Linked DNA regions of Homo sapiens: all the other regions are reported to be linked to region 2. Evidence: microRNA targets listed by miRTarBase, many of them from high-throughput screens and not tested one by one. Region 2 holds a microRNA gene; each other region holds the end of a gene's coding sequence.

What was found. The annotated mature microRNA hsa-let-7c-5p reads UGAGGUAGUAGGUUGUAUGGUU and lies in region 2 at 2,078-2,099, shown strand. An mRNA with a match to its seed (bases 2 to 7 or 8) in the 3' UTR can be bound and repressed. Matches are read on the target gene's strand: a 7mer-m8 pairs with bases 2 to 8, a 7mer-A1 pairs with bases 2 to 7 and ends in A, and an 8mer does both.
Region 1: the mRNA of FMO4 is a reported target of hsa-let-7c-5p. Seed matches in the 3' UTR shown: 8mer at 2,579-2,586.
Region 3: the mRNA of PLEKHA3 is a reported target of hsa-let-7c-5p. The part of its 3' UTR that is shown has no 7-base or 8-base seed match.

The regions. Positions count from the first base shown.
Region 1 is chr1:171,341,626-171,344,625 of GRCh38, reverse strand. FMO4 (flavin containing dimethylaniline monoxygenase 4) reads right to left here. Exons shown (of 10, transcript NM_002022.3): 10 at 2,542-3,000. The coding sequence ends at 2,787. Among named protein-coding and RNA genes, the nearest start is that of FMO4, 29 kb to the right of the region's middle.
Region 2 is chr21:16,537,761-16,540,911 of GRCh38, forward strand. It overlaps MIRLET7C (microRNA let-7c), which reads left to right and starts at 2,068; the gene lies at 2,068-2,151. All of the region lies in intron 6 of MIR99AHG (mir-99a-let-7c cluster host gene), which reads left to right. It overlaps MIR99A (microRNA 99a), which reads left to right and starts at 1,329; the gene lies at 1,329-1,409.
Region 3 is chr2:178,503,478-178,506,477 of GRCh38, reverse strand. It overlaps PLEKHA3 (pleckstrin homology domain containing A3), which reads right to left. Exons shown (of 8, transcript NM_019091.4): 8 at 1-2,718. The coding sequence ends at 2,591. Among named protein-coding and RNA genes, the nearest start is that of TTN-AS1, 18 kb to the left of the region's middle.

The DNA of each region.
Region 1 (3,000 bases), not on the chromosome of region 2:
TGTCCCCGATTCTGCAGCTATTAGTAGTTAACTTACTTTGGACCAAACACCGTGCATTTTCTCATTAATGTTCACAGTAAGGTAGGCCCTATTATGACCACTGTTTTCCGGATGAGGACACTAAGGCTTAGAGAGGCTAAGTCACATGGCCAAGACTTCATAGCTAACAAGTTGAGTTCTCATTCTCAAGTTAGTGCTCTTAACCAGTGTACTTCGCTCCTGTGCAAGTACTGGACTGTATAGTTCTATTTCTTCTAATTGCCACTTGGATTGTCCTTTACTTATAACATTAGCTGTTGGCGGACTGTTCTTGTTTGTTTGCAAGGCTGAGGTAATTTATCATGTTGGCAGAAGACAAGAATGTAGGTAGAAGAGAGAAAACAAAGAGTGCCAGCTGGCAAGGCCACTGTCGATTCATCAAATACTTCTTTAGCAATGCTTCATATCAGGCAGTGTGTCCGATGAACATGATATGATTCCTTTTAGGAACTCACCATTTGTTAGGTGACAGACAAAAAGAAAATGATACTATAGTAAGAAAAGAGCAGCACCAGAGCATACACAAGGTGCAGCTGCTACACAGGGGTGACCATTTCTGCTTTGGGGATTTAGGGAAGGCTGCACAGAATGAGAGCACTGAGCTCTCTTGAAAGATAAATAGGATCTCATCAGTCAGGCACGGTATAGATTTGTGTGCCTGGCAGAGGCAAGAGCTGATGCCAAAGGGAGGAGTTATGAAAGTTCATAGTTTGGTAGTGCTGGATGGGAGGGTTTGAAATAACAGGCATCCTGCTGACCCAGGCAAAGGGACTCAGACCATGAAGGGCCTTCTATGTTATGCTAAGGAATATGGGACTATTATGTCTTCTTTTTTTTTTTTTTTTGAGAGAGTCTCTTTCTGTCACCCAGGCTGGAGTGCAGTGGTGTGATCTTGCCTCACTGCAACCTCTGTCTCCTGGGTTCAAGTGATTCTCCTGCCTCAGCCTCCTAAATAGCTGAGATTACAGTCACGCACCACCACGCCCAGCTGATTTTTGTATTTTTAGTAGAGATGAGGTTTCACCATGTTGGCCAGGCTGGTCTTGAACTCCTGACTTCAAGTGATCTGCCCGCCTCAACTTCCCAAAGTGTTGGGATTACAGGCATAAGCCACTGTGCCCAGCCAAGGACTATTATCTCTAATCAAGATAGAGAATGAAGGATTTTATATGGGAGGGTGACATGATCAAACTGGATCCCTTTTGTGTGCCTCACCATATATCCTCTCCATCATCTTTGCTCTGCTCTGTGCCCTAGGAGCCTGACCTCTGTGGATAAAATCTGTTGGCAACCTTGCCTTCTGACTTTCATTTGGTTTGGCCCTTGGGGAGCACTAGCAAGGGATCAGAGAGTGGGAAGAGAGTAAGATTAGATAATTTATTCCCCCAGATCTCTACTTTTGTAGTCATCGTGCACCTGCCTTTGTCACTCAGCTGAAGGTCATTGCTCTTGTTAGGTGGCCCTCTACGCAGTGCTTGCTTTTTCTCTTTAGTAATTGCTTTATTCTCTTGCCTCATTAGGTCTATGGATAGTAAAGGTTACAAGTCTGGGAGTGTTTCATTATCTCTATGATCTTCCTACACTCTGCCCATATCTTTTAAAATAATCTCTATATTAAAATTTCCAGGCAGGCATGGTGGCACATGTCTGTAATCCCAGCAACTTGGGAGGTGGAGGAGGGAGGTTTGTTTGAACCCAAGAGTTCAAGATCTGAGATCTAAAAAAAATAGTGAGGCTGGACATGATAACTCATGCCTGTAATCCCAGCACTTTGGAAGGCTGAGGCAGAATGATTGTTTGAGCTCAGGAGCTTGAAACCAGCCTGGGCAACATAGCGAGACCCTGGCCGTATTTTTTTTAAAAGAAAGAAAAAAAAAGAAAGAAAAAGTAACACACTGTCCCTATGAAAACCTTTAAAAACATTAGCCAGTCATGGTCCCAGCTACTCAGAAGGCTGAGGTGGGAGGATAGCTTGAGCCCAGGAGTTCGAGGCTGCAGTGATCTATGTTTGCATCACTGTGTTCCAGTTTGGGTGATGGAAAAAATTTTCTCAACTTAATTTGAATGCCATTTTGTTCCTACTGAGACCTTCCTGGGAATCAGAGGTTCCTATATATTTATAAACCATATATTTACTTTAGAGTAATAAACCATATTGTATTAGTCTGTTCTATTGCTGCTAATAAAGACATACCCAAGACTGGGTAATTTATAAAGGAAGGGAGGTTTAACAGACTCACAGTTCCACATGGCTGGGGAGGCCTCACAATCATGGTGGAAGGTGAAGAAGGAGCAAAGACACGTCTTACATGGTGGTAGACACGAGAGAGCTTGTGCAGGGGAACTGTCATTTATAAAACCATCAGATATAGTGAGACTTATTCACTACCATGAGAACAGTATGGGAGAAGACCTGCCCCCATGATTCAATTACCTACCTCCCACGGCATGTGGGAATTATGGGAGCTACAATTCAAGATGAGATTTGGGTGGGGACACAGCTAAACCATATCATATATATTTATTTTAGAATAATCACTGAGGTAGCAGGGTAGAAGATGCATTGGAAAGGGTGGCAAGAAAGAGGGTACTGAAAACAAAGAAGAAGATAATACAATAATTCAGATAGGAGATGACTGGGCCTGAATTTGGCTAATAGCAGTTATGATGGAGAGCAGAGGAGGGATGCACAAGATACTTGGAGATAGAATTAGCATGACTTTGTGTAACCCTTGTAACAATCAGGTTCATCCTCGCCAAAGACTTACTAGGTAAGGGGACATTCTGTCCTGTAGTTTATCTCTCACCAATTTCAAGAAAAGTGAAGATTTACAGATAAGTAGAAGAGAGGCAAGTAGGACAGGTGCCCCCCAGGCTTTTAAATAATGTGACATGGAGGCAGGCTTGGAGGAATCAGGGACAATTCGAGTTTTTAAAGGTTTCAATGTTCTGTCCCACTGG
Region 2 (3,151 bases):
GGAAGTGAAATCAGGAGGAGGGGAATAAGGTCATGCTTTTTCATCTTTTTTACATGACCTGATAAGACAATGAAACCAAAACATGCTTTCTTATAGTTATGGTAAAACTAAACCCAATGCTGCCTCTTATTTCACATTTGCATTTATAAATATATGTTGAAATATTTTTACTACAACTGAATGTATGATTGTTGATTATTTACTATAGTTTTTAATAATTATGAGGACAATTTAAGAATAAATAATGGTTTAAAATTATGTAGAACACATGATCTATATAAAGGCTATAAAACGTATTTATTTCAAAATATGCAAAATCACTAAGCAATTAGTATGTAGTATTATTTTACACAATAAAGATATAATTAGGAAATGCTAAGTGATTATAGATGTGAAATGATTAATGATTGTACAACTTATCATTTTGTTGCAGTTGAGTTTACAATCTTAAAAAAACGTGTATGTGGCTGGCTTTATGTTTACTCGTTTGTGTGTTTGCTTGTTGTCTGGTGGTTTAAAACATTTTTTAGTAATATTTTATTTTTGCCCAACCTGTTGACCAGATGAGAGTTGTATGTAGCCATGCATTTTAAGTGTATCTTTTTTGAACAATAAGTTTAAATATATTTTATTTAGGAAAGAAGATATCCTATGTCATGTAATACATCTGGAGTATAAATGTTAGTGTGGAGTATTAGTAATCATGCCATTATCGTGCCATTTAGTTTAGTTTTATATTAACTCATCCAAATATTGTAAATTTTAGCACCATTCCGACTATAGACACAGATGTATATATTTAAGGCTGATAATAACTTCCTGTATTCTCTAGCTAGTGAACAAGATCTTACTGTTTTATGAGAAAGTTATAATGTTACCAATTCCTTGAAACCAGTAACTAAACTAGTTTTATAAAAATTAAAATAAGCACGGTCTAACTCATACACAATTAACTTAATAGTTAATTTGGTTTTAATTATAGGCTCGTAATACTACATTCATGCCTCACAATTATATAATTCATACATGCATGTATGGATTCTTTTTTCTTTTAAAACTCAATTAGAATAGTTTAATTCCAAAATATTTACTATTGAAACAAAAGCAGTTCGTGAAAAATTTTTCAATAAACTACTTTTTAAATTCTCATGCATATAAATTTGTATTTAGTTTTGAATATTTATGAAGGCCTTTAATGGAGAATATGCATCCTTAGAACTCAGCATTTAAAACATTTATACTAAAGGATCAATATTATTTTTGACTCTTAATTGCATCAGATATTTACAACAAATTCTATATTAATAGGGGGCCCATGCAAGATGTTGCCCATTGGCATAAACCCGTAGATCCGATCTTGTGGTGAAGTGGACCGCACAAGCTCGCTTCTATGGGTCTGTGTCAGTGTGGTAATCTGACAAAATGCTATACACAGTGCCGTTCAACAATAGTTCAGTAAAATCCTGTTAAACTCCAGTTGATTATATACTTTTGAAGTCATTATATTTTCCTTTGTTTTTAATGTTTATTTTAATCATTGTCTGTCTTACAAGGCAGGCTTCAATTCTCAACAACTTGGAAGCGTTTATATCACACCCATTCAAGTTCGATTCCATGTACAGTAAATTGCATAAGAAAGTTGAACCTTTATAGCAGGGTTTGGACCAGGATCTGAATAGATTCTGTTCAGAAACTTCAGTGCATACTGTAGTGCTTAGTGTACCTCTTCAACTTCAGTAAGAAAATTAAAGACTACCATTGGATTTATATGTTTTTATTGAGCCTATTTCTCCTGAAAAAATGAGGCTGAATGCAATTGACTTTTACTATTAATTGCGACTAGAACTATGGCAGGTTAGATGGTCAGAAGACATTTTACGTGACCTATGCTGGAAACCCAAGTGTTTAGGTTAGTCCTATGAGAAACAGTTAGCAGCAAAGTTTACTGGTAAAATGTTAGAATATTATATCTATATCCTTGCCAAGCCCTTAGGTGTATGGCTGCCATATTTGGAGGAGCTGACTGAAGATATGATAAGGAGTTTGAAGCAACATTGGAAGCTGTGTGCATCCGGGTTGAGGTAGTAGGTTGTATGGTTTAGAGTTACACCCTGGGAGTTAACTGTACAACCTTCTAGCTTTCCTTGGAGCACACTTGAGCCGTCGAGGAATTCTTCATCACTTTAACCTGATTGAGCCAATTTGTGTGCAAGAAGGTAATGTGTCATGAGTATCTTGGATCATTGATTTGGGCCTTTATTACATTAAAATGATCATTTCAGCCCTATTAGATTATTCCATTTGTATCTGCTTATGAACAATGTCAAAATGGTATTTCTAATGGGTTGTCACTCCATGTTCAAACATTTTAAGAAAATTGTAGGTAGTGACTTAAATTGCATTAATATTAAAGCTTTTTATCATCTATAGATTAACAAAATTCAGACCTTAATTTTCAAATGGATCATTGGTCTATTTATATTGGCTGCTTAGACACTATAATAAAAAATGTCTGCTAGAGTTAATAGCTCCCATAGCACATTATTTGCGTTTTCCTTATGACACATCACTTTCTACCTTATGTTATGGCTATTTATGTGCTTGCTGATTTTTTCCGCACTAGACTGTAAGCCCCTTGAGGGCAAAGTCCATGTTTTATTTTTCACTGTATCCCCTCCAATGCCTTACTCATAATGAGCACTAACTATTTATTGGATTAGTGAATGGAGTGTAAGACCTCACTCTGTGATGAGTTTCTATTGAATATTTGAATGAGTTATGGCAGTGGTCAAACATCTGAGTTTTATTTATTGCTCCTAAAACTGTTTAAATTTAATTCCTGGACTGCTCCGCATCAGTAATACATGTGTCGATTTTTGACTGTGTTGAATGTGTTCATTCATTCTAAACAGATAAGTTAAAATTTAGAAGTACTTTTTATCTAGAATAAAAATAATAGAGTAAATTCATTTTTACTAATTAGTTCATGACAGTTTATGATCCTACACTTAGATAATTCATATTTCTGTTGAATTTAAATACCTTTCTTTCCAGATGAATCGTTTTTCTTTTAGCATCAATTTCAACTAAATATTCTATTTTAAGTCTCATTTAACAATATGATTTTTAAAAATTAGATTTGTGTCTTTTG
Region 3 (3,000 bases), not on the chromosome of region 2:
GCAATAGCATCCATTTCTGGATTTTTCCTGACTGAAGATCATGCAATAATCCCATATGATGTAAGAAAATTCAAATTCAGCTCATTTATAAAAGAATTGTATCAAAATCCCTTTAGTCATGGAGGCCTGCGATTCCCAAAGAATAGTGAGCAAGCACTTGAAATGAAAAACAAGCACTGCTTTTGCTTAGAAGATCACTGATAGGCTGCCAAGAGAACCTCCAAATTTCTCAATAACTTTTCATGTTTCTCAATAACCCCATGACCTAGACAAAGCAAAAAAAAGGGACTACTAATAACTAATAATAACCAATAATTTTTCTATAAAGTATAGAACAACTTGACAAGCTAAAATTCTTACAGAATTGTTATATGGTTCATCTTTTTCTTAAAATTCAAAAAAGTCAGGCACACTTGAAAATAAAGGACTCCTCAAAATGCAAGGTTCCCTTAAGCTTTATAGGTTTCTTCATGCTACTAATTCACTGATCAAAACCTGGATATAATTCAAGATATATTTATACTCCCACAAAAAAAATGATTTCACAGATGTGTTTGGTTCCTAACAATAACAACAAAAAGTGGCTCCAAGTCATAACAAAAGACATACTTAGGGATACCGCAAACCTGTTCAAGGACCTGTTTTAAGGGGGAAAAAATGATACAAACCAGAAATAATTGCATTGTATTTTTAAAATATTCACAGAAAACTCTTCACGAACCCATCTATTTGGGTAAAGCAATAGAAAATGGATGTGATTATTTTCTATAAGTTCAAAAGCTTGTTACGGTGTTTTCCTTATAAACCTATTACTGCAAAAAAACTCACTACCAGAAAAAACTCCCAATCAATAGCACCCTGACCTTCATGGTCTTAATACTGTGCAAGTTCTTACTACAAAATTTAAAAAAAAAAAAAAAACAAGAAAAACCTGATTACCTGCTCAACGTCATAACTTACTACATTATCAAACTTTTTTTTTCAAATTAGACATATGAAGTACAACTTATGAGCAGGCAAAGACTCCACTGAATATAGAGTAGTCTGATGACCTGTGTGTTATTTAAAATTACAAACACTTCAAGTAGCATACAGTTTACCCAAACACATATTAATGTATAGACTGTTTATGTCCATCTTAAACTTAAGATGGAAGGCCTATAATTACAGTTTTTTAAACAAATACCAAATATTAATTATTTTAAAATATCCCACATAAACTTACAAGATAAATTGAAATAAAATGAAATAGGTCACACCATTCTAAGCTCACAGGCAACAAAAATTATGCTTCATTTGTGTCTTCACCAGCAGGCCTAAATATACAAACAAACTCAAATCCATTAGAATTATATTAGTGCCTAATAAAGATTAGACAGAATATCAATGAATGTAAAAAATACAATGTATTATATGATGTGTTTGAATGCAAAAACCACGCATTTATTAAACATATGATTAACTTAAAAACAACACACCAGTTTGTTTTAAAGTGCTCCTTATCCAAAACCTTAAACAAAACTATCAGCCCAAAATGAATTCAAAAAAACAGATTACAAGGCAAACAATGACAATAGGTATGGACAGGCACTACCAAAAAATGCTATTTGTTCTTTAATTAAATAATGCCATTCTCAAGTGATATAGAGCAGTCATCTTGACAGAATTCCTTTTTGTATAAATATTCATAAATAAAAATGTCTCTAGATATTGGAAAGAGCTGCAAACAATACTTTACAACAGCAGCTTAATATCTATTTTAGGAAAAAAAAAGCACTAAAATTCTCTTCCATTGAAAGTTGTTTATTTCTCTAGTGTAAGTGAGCAAAGTCACTACAGCATTAAAATCTCTTTTCTAGAACAACGTAAAGAACAACGTATACACATCTTAAATTTGGTAGGTCACAAAAGTTAGAATGCAATCATCTTTTGAGGCAACAAGAAAATAAATACATAAAAATTAAACACTTTAACCCAAAATTTGGTATTGACAAATCAGTAGTGTCAACTTCACATATGAAGGACAATACAGTCTGGTTATTTAAAGATGCTCAATATGTCATGGTATTTGGGCTAAAGATACTTAGAATATTGTGTTTCCTTTTTGATTAAAGGAATACAATACAATCACCATCAAGCTGCTATCGTAACTCATTTTTAGCTGTGGTAAAGTGACCATTTGGTCCATGGCACAAGTTACATATATCACACTTCTGTCAAACTGAAACCTTATAAGATTTCATGTTTATAAGCTACAATACACCCTGACCATGCTGTCAGTCCCCTCAGAGTTTTTAAGAAAAATATCTACATTTGTCCTTATGGATGTCAAAATGTTACACCATCATTTGTTCAAAAAAAAAAGATGCACATTCATACTGTGAAGTTATTAGGAAAATACTCTTGCAAACAAACTATATAAAGATAAAATACACTTCAAAAGTATGTGGTTTGTTTTCTTGTTTGTCTGTTTTACAACATTCTATAAAGTGCAGAGTCCTAAGGGAAAAAACTACTCCCTATAACAATAGTTTAATTACAGCAGCTTTTGCATAGCAATACTTAGAGGAAGTTGGACACTTCAGTTTCTTCAGGAAGAGAAGGATGGAAGAGTATCTTCTGATTCAGATTGTTTTTTGGCCATAAGTCTGCTTTCTTCAGGAATGGTTGCTGATGCCAAATCTCCATTAAGTGTATTTTTTGAACAGTGAACAGGTCCTATGAAGACATTGATAAAAACGTTAAACATCCTGTCAATATTAACTCCAGTCCTCTGTGAAAGAACATTTTAAATTTCCTGTTCAGGGACATGAAATTCCTTTAGCTTCTGGCTAATTTTGTATTTCCTTGTTTGTTTCATGCAGGAAAACTTAACTTTTAGACTAGAGTATCAACAGCCACAAGGAGAAACATCAGAATTCATAAGATAAATGATGAAATTGCCTGAAGTAGAGATTTTTGTTTTGTTCACTGCTAGAATCATGGTTGGCACATAATAGG